3 linked regions of the Homo sapiens genome follow. The protein of the gene in region 1 purifies or fractionates together with the protein of each later gene. This does not show direct contact. Each region holds a gene or a part of one and is shown on either strand. Other genes may lie near its edges.

Region 1 (4,152 bases):
GGGATGACTGGCCTGAAACATAATTGATTTTCACAACTATCCACAGCATGAATATAAAGTTGTGAAATTAAAATTCAGATGGAAAACCTTTTCTCAAGTCAGAGTGGCCAAGTGAAACTGACATCCGTAAGAAAGGACCATGCCAGGCATGCCTTGAGTCTGGCCACTAGGGGGCAGTCAAACACTGCTCCCCTCAAAATACTGTTCGGGCCCGGTTTTGGTTAACCTATTTTGGAGGTTAAGCAAATTATTTAAGTAGCAATTGGTAGTTGCCAAGTAGCAGCCTCAATGCTTCATGCTTTTACTTTCTTACATAAGCCCATGTTTTTGATTTGTAATATGGTTCCTAATTTGTCCATTAAGAAATGTTTTTTAAAAGTTTAAAGTTATGTTTAATAACTTTATTTTAGAGATGTTTACTCTTAGAGACAGATACTGTTTTTAGATCTGCCTGTGGCTTTGGAGTTCCCAGTCTAATTACGTTAACGCAAGATAGTTACTAACAATTACATGAATTTTATGGACATATTTCAACAGGTTGAAATTCCACAAAACACAATTGGTAGTTACCAAGTAGCAGTCTCAATACTTCATGCTTTTAATTTCCTACATAAGCCCATGTTTTTGATATGTAATATGGTTCCTAATTTGTCCATTAAGAAATGTTTTTTAAAAAGTAGTTTGAAGCTGGTTAACAGAGATACACAGTGAATAAATTAATGATAAAACACACGTAATAATAATAAGATACATTATGCATAGTTGTCTGTTAGTGCCTGTAGCTTAAGGCAATCACTCATTCCTTAGGCACTCCAGAGTGATGATGGTCAGAGAAGAAAAGACGATCACATAATTTCTAATTTTATGTTTTGTTTAGATCTGGCCTAAGAGTCTATCACAAATATTATTTAAATTAAAAAGACAACCTTTACTCTTAGGCAACTCTAAATGAGCTTTCTTTGGTTACTATGAAAAGCCTTACCGTTTTAATTGTCCACAATTTTGTTGTGAAAAAGAAAAGAGTTTTACTAATTATAGAGCAAATTCTATTATTTTTATAAGTAGGAATAAAATGTCAAAGCATTGATTAATGTGTCTTGCTTTGAAAAGAAATCATTTTAAACATAAAGGTTTAAATTAGTAGTCAAAAGTAATATAAAATTAGAAAATAAAAATTTCCAGGATTATAATCAATAAATATTTGTTAGGTTGGTACTAGGAGTTTGAAATATGGCTTTTACTTAGAAATAAAATCAAACAAAAATTATTAATTGAACTTTTTTTTAGTTTAAAGGGTGACTTTACATTATGGTAAATCACAAAATGTTATTTTAGTAATAGATGTTTTTCATCTCATAAACGGTTTAAGCAAAATCAATTAAATGCATTATGTATAAAAGCAAAAGTATAGTAAAATTGGTTAAACTGTGGTTATAGTCCCGTACATTAAAGAACTTTTTAAGGGCACAGATGAGCTCTATGACATGTCTTAAGAACCTGCTTTGTAGCTGTATATTCTTAAAATTGTATAAAATTGAATATTCAAATGTGGATAGAACATGAACTTCTGAAGTAGGACCTTAAATATAGAAATAGACTGCTTGTTGCAACTGTACTGCATGCAAGGTGAGTTCATATATTGTTTCTTCTTAGTTAATCCTTAGCTTTTCATGTAAGAGATATTAAAATATAAAATAAAAGTCATGCTAGGTGCATGGAGATATAGATTTTAAATATTTGTAGTAAAGTTTTAGTATTATTTTAAATTCAAAATAAAATTTAGATATTTTAAGCCTTTTAAAAATCTTTTGTTTGTTAGAAGTTTTAAAATAATTCCTCATAAGTATTGCATTTTATTTCAAGATTTAAAATATTCACTTGGAATTCACCTAATAAAACTGAATATTTAAAAAACCTAAAACGAATTTCTCAGAAAATAAAAATAATTTCAAATTTTAACCTTTATTCTCAGAGGTTTATCAAAATTCTTTAAGAAAAAATACAAATTAAAATAGAAACATTTTTGAATAATAATAAACCCCAGCAAATCTTGGGTGTGGTTAATAGGTTGTTTATGAATGTATAGGCTGACAACGTATCTTTTTATTTAAAAACAAGTGAAGATTTAGGTTTTATTTTTTGGTGAGCTTTACAATGAAAATGGTACTGACTTGAAACTTAAGAGTTTGACTGAAATAAAAATTTCCACAAATTAAAAACAAAAGAAAATTATCTAAGTAAATGCACTTGTATAGACTTTTAATAACTTTATTTTAGAGAGGTTTACTCTTAGAGACAGATACTGTTTTTTAGATCTGCCTGTGGCTTTGGAGTTCCCAGTTTAATTATGTTCACGCAAGATAGTTACTAATAATTACTTGAATTTTATGGGCATATTTCAACAGGTTGAAATTCCACAAAACACAATTTTAGTTTATTAATTTGTCACACTTTTCAGAACAAATGCCAAAAATGTTTTCTATGTTTTAATTGATATAGTCAACATTGTTTTTTGACATATTTTATCTACAGCTTTAATAACATACAAAGGCTTGTTTCCATGAAAAATTTGTTGCATCTAAAAATTACTAGGCTGTGTGGGACTACAAGCAATGAAAGATAATGACAAATACCAGGCAAATTTGATGTCTGTTTTTTTTTTAAACACCCCAATATATTTATTACAACTGCCATAGAACTACATAGAAATGTATTTTTTGGGAATTGCACTCATTTAAAACGAGAAAGTAGCAACCTTACCTTTGACATTGATCAGAACGATGAAATGAAGTAGAAAGAACATTGTAATCAATCTGAGGCTGAAGAGATGTTTAAAAACCAGAAAAACAATCATAGGTTTACAGCAATTGAGTTATTAGACGTATCCTCTTATACCTCAGCAGGAGTTCTGATGTAGTAAGTTCAGTGCCTCCCATGTTCTGAGCATGCTCACAGCTAGAACCTCACTGGCATGAAGGGAGATGGATTCTTGTCACTATGCAGCCTGTCTTTTTTGTTCTTTCTTTTTTGTTTCTTTTAGTTTAAATCTACAGTTGTGTTCTTGATCACTAATTCATTATGGTGTGTAAAAGAAGGTATAATAGGACTTTGGTATTATCTGATAAGAAATATTTTTTAATCACTTAAAAATTTTTTTCCTCCAAAGCATGTACAATTTGCTCTGTTTAAATCCAAACATCGAAGTTCTCAAATATGAAGGATATAGGCTTACACTGAATAGGCTATGAAACCCTTTACAATTATATTTTCATGCAATAAACAAATGTAAAAAACTACTTATTGACAGATACACAAAGAACACCCACTTCTATTCAAATGTACCTAAATGTTTTCAAATGACATATGAAAAGATAATTTAAATATATGGCATTGTGTTAAATAATTACTGTAAAACATTCATACAATATTTTCACTTCACATACTTCCCGCATAATCATATTCCTTTTTCTTGAAGTGAATAATTTTATTCTTGCTTCCAGCTCTGTATTGCACACCTATTAGAAAACACTAATTATAATTTAGTTCTTACATCCTGAAAGCAGCTTTCTCAACAGCATAGTTAGTACAAGTTAAAAGTATAAAAATTGACTTTTGGTTGTAGGATTCTGTTGATCCTAGTGTAATCATTAAGACTTCTCCAAAAAGATGTAGAATTTCCATGTCTGAGTTTATATTTTACTAACAGGGAAATATCTATCTAGAATACAGTTTGTAGTTCTGATTTGAAGAGAAGATTTTGTGACTGAACGATGCAGATTCTCTTATATGTTGTCGTTAACTGTGTCCTAACAACACTGAAAAAAACTACCTTGTGGTGACTATTATCGTCACAAATCATAAAACACGGGGTTTTCCTTGTTCTTTCTTTCATTCTAGCCTTTGAGAGAACAAGGATTCAAACAGAATGTACAATAAAAAATACTTTATTTATCACATAATGTATTTAGTTCTTTTCTCTTTTTAAGAAGTGAGTTAAGTTCTCTAAGACACCTCCCAGACATATTTATATGTGGTCTCATCTGATCTTTCAAATCAAAAGAAAAAGCAACAGAGAGAATAAAGATGAAAAGAAATACTTCAGGATCTTTTCTTACATTTCAAGCATCTTTTTTTCCCTCACTAACCTCAAGG
Region 2 (3,654 bases), on another chromosome or scaffold:
GTATTTTTTTAGATATTTCATTTGTGGTTACTATGGGGATGACATTTACACCTACCTCTACAACAATCTAGTTTGAGTTGATACCAACTTAACTTCAGTAGTACATAAAAACTTTCCTCCTATACAGCTCCATCCTCTCTGCTTTTATGTTGTAATGAACTATATCTTTACACATTGTATGTCTGATAACAAAGATATGTAATTAAATTATTTTTCATTCATTTATTTTTTAAGTCCTGCAGGAAATAAAAAGTGGACTTACAAACTAAAATTACAATAGCACTAGCTTTTATATTTGTCCAACTATTTACTAAAAATCTTTATTTCTTCATACAGCTTTGAGTTTCATTTTATTACATATTTACCTTAGCATTTTTTTGTAGGGCAGGTCTAGTGGTAATGAACTCCCTCAGCTTTTATCTGGGAATGTCTTAATTTCTCCCCCATTTTCGAATGACAGTTTTGCCAGATACAGAATTCTTGATTGACAAGTTTTTGCTTCTACCACTTTAAATATGTCATCTCATTGCCTTCTGGCCCCCATGGTTTCTATAAGATATCGGTTGTTAATCCTATGGATGATCCCCAGTGTATGTGATAAGTTGTTTCTCTCTGCTGATTTTAAGACTCTCTTTGGCTTTTGACAGTTTGTTGTGGTGTGGGTCTCTCTGAGATCATCCTACTTGGAGTTTGTTGAGCTTCTTGAATTTGTAGATTTATATCTTCCACCAAATTTGGGGATTGGGGGGTCTTCTTTCCTTAAATATTCTTCATTCATTTTTCTGTCTTCTCTTTGTGGAACTCCCATAATGCAATGATAACCCACTTGATGGTGTCCCATGGGTCCTTTAGGCTCTGTTCACCTCACTTCATTCATTTTTCTTTCTCCTCCTCAGACTGGATAATTTTTATGGTCTTATCTCTAAGTTTCCTGATCCTGTCTTATGCTTGCTTATATCTGCTTTTGAATACCTCTAGTGAATTTTCATTTTTGTTATACTTTTCAGCTCCAGAATTTGTTTGGCTCCCTTGAATAATTTGTCTTTATTGATTTTCTCAGAGATGAGTGCCTGTGTAAGTCCTTCAGGTAGTATTCTGACAGGTTAGGACAGACATACACAATTGTGTATGAGGTCCACTCTGCTCCTTCTGGAACTAGGGACTTACACTGGCAACGCAGGGGCTCTTCAAGACTGCTACTGCACTGGGATGGACCTGGGGCAAGGGCAGGTAAAATGCCACAAAGCTTTCCTCTCTTTGCACTTTCTTGACCAGTGTTCACTTGGTTGCTGAACACCTCTGACTGTTTTCCAGAGTTCTGGCAAATTGAGTTGACAGTTTTTGCTTGTTTTCTGATGTTTCTTTGGGGTAAGAAGAGTTCAGAGCTGCGTATTTTGCTCACCCAAAATTTTAAATTTTGAAACCAAATTTTAGTTGGTTGCTATAGATACTAAAGATTTAACAGATTTATATACCTAGTGTACCTAGTTTTTTATTACATACCATTGGAGTACGATGTTTCACTTTGGTCTGAATAACACCATCTTTTTCAAACTGTATCATATCATTAAGTGGGTCCCATGGTCGGGTACTACATAAATGAAAAAAAAAAAAACCATTTGCTCAATGACTAAACAAAGAACTTTAAAACTTTCTATTCTATGATCCAATTTTATTAATAATTATATACATAGTTCTAATAATGAGATTTCCCCATACCTAATCTTCAGATCCTCAACTTATTTTATAGGCTAACTTCTATCATAGAGTCAAGCTTATAATGAATGCAAAACCAAGTTTAAAAATCTCACACTAATATACATGGTTTAATTAAATAAAAACTACTCCAGCAACAAATATTCTAGAAATAAAGGCAACAAACCATGCTAATACATTGTTTGAAATAAACTATTTTAAGTTACTTACTCTGCAAACTTGTAATGCCATTCTCCTGTGAGTGGATCAAGTTCAAATAATTTGCAAGACCACTCTTCATTTTTTGTTTTCCGATCCCTGGCAGCTTGTCTTTGAGCTTCTTCCAAAACATACTTCTCTTGGGTAGCTTCAGTTTGGTCTTTGGCATTTATGGCTCGAGTTACCCGTTGCCAGAGTCTAATACATGTGCGAAAATATTAAAAGTATTAAAAATGTAACAGAAAATAAAATCTATATAGAATAGGCCTCAAATCCCTTGTAGAGAAAATAATGCTCACATGAATTTCTGGCTTTGACAACACTTATGCTCATAGGCTTAGAAATGAGTCAAGATATAAATCCAGTCCCTTGAGTAGAGAGAGACCTGTTCATAAGTGGAGACTAATTTTTTTTACTTGGCAAGAGAAACTTACTACATAGACTCTTAAACTCATGATAGTAAGTGTTGAAGTGTTGCTGGCTCAAGATGATAGGATGTAATGAAGGTAAAGCTCAGGAATCTACGCTTTTAGCAAGCTTCCTAGATGCGTCTTACACTGTTTAAGATTCACTGGCTTCATAAAGATCCATTAATGTAATGCAGTGCTTCTGAAGTTTGGATCCATGAATTATCAGAGAATTTTTATAATCAGAATCTCTGGGGTCAGGCGCAAGTATTGATATATTTTTTAAATGTTTCCCCAAAATATTTTAATGTATTGCTAGTGTTGAGAACCACTGGTTTAACAGAAAAGACTACTGAGGTAAAATGATTTCCCCTACTAGTTCTTTCTTCTGTTAAATAAAAGTATATCTATATCCTACCCATCTAGAAAGGCAGCATGTTAAAACCAGAAAAGGCTTTGGGATCAGATAGACATGAGTCAAGTCCTAGAGCTGCCACTTCTTAGCTGGTGCACTTAAAGTTATTTATCCTAAGTCTCATTTCCTCATCTTCAAATATGCTGAATTATATACTCTCACAAATTATCATATGTATGCCTTGGCAAAGCTTATCTCTGGAAAAAGAACATCAAATGGTTATGGCTGAGACAGAATTTTTAGAACTGGTACATATACATTCTTCCATCTTTGACAACCTCAAATTTGAGTGTAGAAGGGAAGGTACACAGACTTGAATTCCCATGACAGAGAATGATATGTATGTGCAAACATGTAGGGAGGACAAAGTTGCATAATAAGTACTAAGTGCCTAGCAAAATATCTCTTATACATAAGTCTCTTTCTCTTAACACAAAGATATAACAACAATAAAATAGGGAATGTGTATACAATATTTCTGATTCAAAAATATAAGCCATCTAGCAAGAAGTTCATGACTTAAGAACAGAAATGATAGCCTTAGTTATTACCCAACTAATAAATCCTATAGAAGCCAGTCCATCCAGTAACTTTACTTTTGTATCAGAGAATGGAACAGAAGTAGATTCTGCACCACTCCCTTTACCTAGAGTTCTAATGCTTAAATCAGGTTAGAAAACTGTTGCCAGGTAGAAACTAAGAGTCATTAATTAGTCCTGTAATCTTATTTAAACAAAAACGTTCTTTCTTTCTTTTTTTTTAAGGTGCTGGAACAATTGAGAAAGAAAAAAATGAGTAGTTTTGAGCTACAGAAAAGCAAGACGATTTATATTATATTTGACATTCATATACACAAAAACAGAATACTGTCACTTCCACAAATGATAAACTATTTTGCTGAATTAAGATATGACAGAA
Region 3 (3,654 bases), on another chromosome or scaffold:
ATCGAGACCATCCTGGCTAACACGGTGAAACCCCGTCTCTACTAAAAATACAAAAAATTAGCTGGGCATGGTGGCAGGCGCCTGTAGTCCCAGCTACTTGGGAGGCTGAGGCAGGAGAATGGCGTGAACCTGGGAGGCAGAGCTTGCAGTGAGCTGAGATCGTGCCACTGCACTTCAACCTGGGCAATAGAGCAAGACTCCAACTCAAAAAAAAAAAAAAAAAGATAAAATTGGGCCAGGTATGGTGGCTTACTCCTGTAATCCCAGCACTTTGAAAGGCTGAGGCAGGTGGACCACTTGAGGCCAGAAGTTGAAGACCAGTCTGGGCAACATAGCAAGACCCTATCTCAATCAGTCAATCAACCTAAATAAATAGTAAATCTGGTGGCATGCCAAGCACAGGACCTGGGTCTATAATCAAAATTCCTGTCTTGATGGGCACAGTGGCTCACACCTGTAATCCCAGCACTTTGGTAGGCCACAGTGGGTGGATCACCTGAGATCAGGAGTTCGAAACCTGCCTAGCCAAGTATGGTGAAACCCGTCTTTACTAAAAATACAAAAATTAGCCAGGCATGGTGGCAGGCGCCTGTAATCCCAGCTACTCGGGAGGGTGAGGCAGGAGAATCGCTTGAACCTGGGAGGCGGAGGTTGCAGTGAGCCGAGATCGCGCCACTGCGCTCCAGCCTGGGTGACAGAGCAAGACTCCGTCTGAAAAAAAAAACAAAAGAATTCCTGTCTTCTCTCCGAAACAAAGCAGCATCAGTGCCCCCGCAGGTGGGAGGGAGCGCTTGCAGGAGGGAGCAGTGGGTCCGCCACGACGGTCTGGGGAGCAGGTGGGGAGGGGGCAGAGGGTGCAGCGTGTGGTGGGAGGGAGGAAGCCACACTGCTATCTTCAGGTGCTTCCCGCAGCTCCATTTGCAAAGAGCGGATGGGTTTGGGGAAGGAAGGGGTCCCCACCCTGTGCCAATACAGCGTATCAGAGGTATGTTCTCTGGGCTGTCTACAGGTTGGCTTGGGGTCCTGGGGAGGGGCAGGCCAAGCGGGCAGTACTAGGATCGGGTCCCAGCATGACCCGGCTTCACCTTCCCAGAACAAGAATGTGGTGGTGGCTGACTTCGGGCTGGCGCGTCTCATGGTGGACGAGAAGACTCAGCCTGAGGGCCTGCGGAGCCTCAAGAAGCCAGACCGCAAGAAGCGCTACACCGTGGTGGGCAACCCCTACTGGATGGCACCTGAGATGATCAACGGTGAGTGGTTCAGCCCTGCCCATCATGGCCCTCACGGGAAGCCATGGGGGAGCCCAGGAGAGCTGTAACCTCCCAAGCCCCTGGCCCCTCCCAGCCTCCTTGGCTCTTCAGTTACCCTGTGGGTCCTGTTGCTCCTATAACACACTTAGTGGCAGCCAGGCACGGTGGCTCACGCCTGTAATCCCAGCACTTTGGGAGGCTGAGGTGAGTGGATCACCTGAGGTCAGTAGTTGGAGACCAGCCTAGCCAACATGGTGAAACCCCCATTCTTTACTAAAAATACAAAAATTAGCTGGGCATGGTGGTGGGTGTAATCCCAGTACTGTAGTACTGTAATCCCAGCTACTAGGGAAGCTGAGGCAGGAGAATCGCTTGAACCTGGGAGGCAGAGGTTGCAGTGAGCCGAGATCGCGCCATTGCACTCCAGCCTGGGTGACGAGCGAAACTCCATCTCAAAAAATAAATAAATAGAAGACACTTAGTGGCTTAAATAAATGATCATACAGTTCTGGAGTCTGAAGTCCAGCGTCAGCCTCACCGGGCTGAAATCAAGACGCCGGTAGGGTGAGCTCCTTCTGCAGGCTCCGGGGCACCTGTTTCCTGACCTTTTCTGGCTCGTGGAGGCTTCCTCATTCCTCCTGTTGCTGCCCCCTCCTCTGTCTTCAGGGCTGGCTGCAAAGCATCTTCTCTTCTCTGATCTCTGCATCCATCCCCGCATCTCTTTCCCTGGCTCTAACCTTCCTCCTTTTTTTTTTCTTTTTTAAAGAGGGTCTCGCTCTGTTACTCAGGCTGGAGTGCAGTGGTGCCACCATAGCTCACTGCAGCCTCAACCTTCTGGGCTCAAACTGTCATCCCACCCCAGCCTCCTGAATAGCTGGGACCACAGGCATGCAACACCACACCCAGCTAATTTTTTTATTTTTTATTTTTTATTTTTTTTTGAGACAGAGTCTCGCTGTGTCTCCCAGGCTAGAGTGCAGTGGCGTGATCTCAGCTCACTGCAAGCTCCGCCTCCTGGGTTCACGCCATTCTCCTGCCTCAGCCTCCCGAGTAGCTGGGACTACAGGCGCCCGCCAACACGCCTGGCTAATTTTTTGTATTTTTAGTAGAAACGGGGTTTCACCGTGTTAGCCAAGATGGTGTCGATCTCCTGACCTCGTGATCCGCCCGTCTCGGCCTCCCAAAGTGCTGGGATTACAGGCGTGAGCCACCGCGCCTGGCCAATTTTTTAAATTTTTAATAGAGACGGGGGTATCACTATGTTGCCCAGGCTGGTCTCAAACTCCTGGCTTCAGGCGATCCTCCTGCCTTGACCTTTCAAAGTGCTGGGATTCCAGGCATGAGCCACCATGGCCCTCCATCCTTCTGATAGGGACCCTTACGGTGACATTGGGCCCACCTGGATAATCCAAAAGCAGCCCTCCATCTCAAGACCCTCAACTTAATCCCATCTGCAGAGTCCGATGGAAGGTGGGACGTATACAAGTCCCAGGGATCAGGACGCAGTCATCTTTGGGGATCATAGTTCTGCCTCCCACAGGGTCTGCTTCCCTCAGTCCATTTCTTTGCTGTCAATGGTCCTATATATGCCCAGATTATAGGTTATAAAGTCCTTCTACAAGCAGGTGACACATGAACACAGGTTCAGGGCAGGCAGACCCCAGCCATCACCTCATCATAGTTAACCTAGTTAAATTAGCCTGGCATGTGGCGTGGTGCCTAATGCCTGTGGTCCCAGCTACTCAGGAAGCCAAAGCGGGAGATTTACTTGAGCCAAGGAGATCAAGGCTGCAGTGAGCTATGATCATACCACTGCCTTCTAGCCTGGGCAACGGAGTGAGACCCTGTCTCAAGAAAACAAAAAATAGGCCAGGCACAGTGGCTCACACCTGTAATTCCAGCACTTTGGGAGGCTGAAGCAGGCGGATTGCTTGAGGCCAGGAGTTCGAGACCAGCCTGGCCAACATGGTGAAACGCTGTCTCTACTGAAAATACAAAAATTACCCGGGTGTGGTGGCACAGCTACTAGGGAGGCTGAGGCAGGAGAATCACTTGAACCCAGGAGCAGAGGTTACATTGGGCCAAGATTGCACCACTGCACTCCAGCCTGGGCAACAGAGGAAGACTGTGTCTCAAAAAGAAAAAAAAAAAAACCTTCCTGTAATCCCAGCACTTTGGGAGGCTGAGGTGGGCGGATCACGAGGTCAAGAGATTGAGACCATCCTGGTCAACATGATGAAACCCCATCTCTACTAAAAATACAAAAAAATTAGCTGGGCGTGGTTGCACGCGTCTGTAGTCCCAGCTACCCGGGAGGCTGAGGCAGGAGAATGATGTGAACCCAGGAGGCGGAGCTTGCAGTGAGCCGAGATCGCACCACTGTACTCCAGCCTGACGACAGAGT

The links.
Region 2: the proteins of RXFP2 (region 1) and OSBPL8 purify together in Homo sapiens (affinity purification with mass spectrometry; one large-scale study listed by BioGRID and IntAct). This does not show direct contact.
Region 3: the proteins of RXFP2 (region 1) and LIMK1 purify together in Homo sapiens (affinity purification with mass spectrometry; one large-scale study listed by BioGRID and IntAct). This does not show direct contact.

Annotation. Positions count from the first base shown.
Region 1 is NC_000013.11:31,738,315-31,742,466, reverse strand, and holds the start of RXFP2 (relaxin receptor 2), read right to left. Parts: upstream 2,942-4,152; 5' UTR 2,855-2,941; coding exon 2,761-2,854; intron 1-2,760. UniProt on the Homo sapiens protein: Receptor for relaxin. The activity of this receptor is mediated by G proteins leading to stimulation of adenylate cyclase and an increase of cAMP. May also be a receptor for Leydig insulin-like peptide (INSL3).
Region 2 is NC_000012.12:76,367,711-76,371,364, forward strand, and holds part of OSBPL8 (oxysterol-binding protein-related protein 8), read right to left. Parts: intron 2,113-3,654; coding exon 1,927-2,112; intron 1,592-1,926; coding exon 1,504-1,591; intron 1-1,503. UniProt on the Homo sapiens protein: Lipid transporter involved in lipid countertransport between the endoplasmic reticulum and the plasma membrane: specifically exchanges phosphatidylserine with phosphatidylinositol 4-phosphate (PI4P), delivering phosphatidylserine to the plasma membrane in exchange for PI4P, which is degraded by the SAC1/SACM1L phosphatase in the endoplasmic reticulum.
Region 3 is NC_000007.14:74,114,709-74,118,362, forward strand, and holds part of LIMK1 (LIM domain kinase 1), read left to right. Parts: intron 1-1,093; coding exon 1,094-1,250; intron 1,251-3,654. UniProt on the Homo sapiens protein: Serine/threonine-protein kinase that plays an essential role in the regulation of actin filament dynamics. Acts downstream of several Rho family GTPase signal transduction pathways.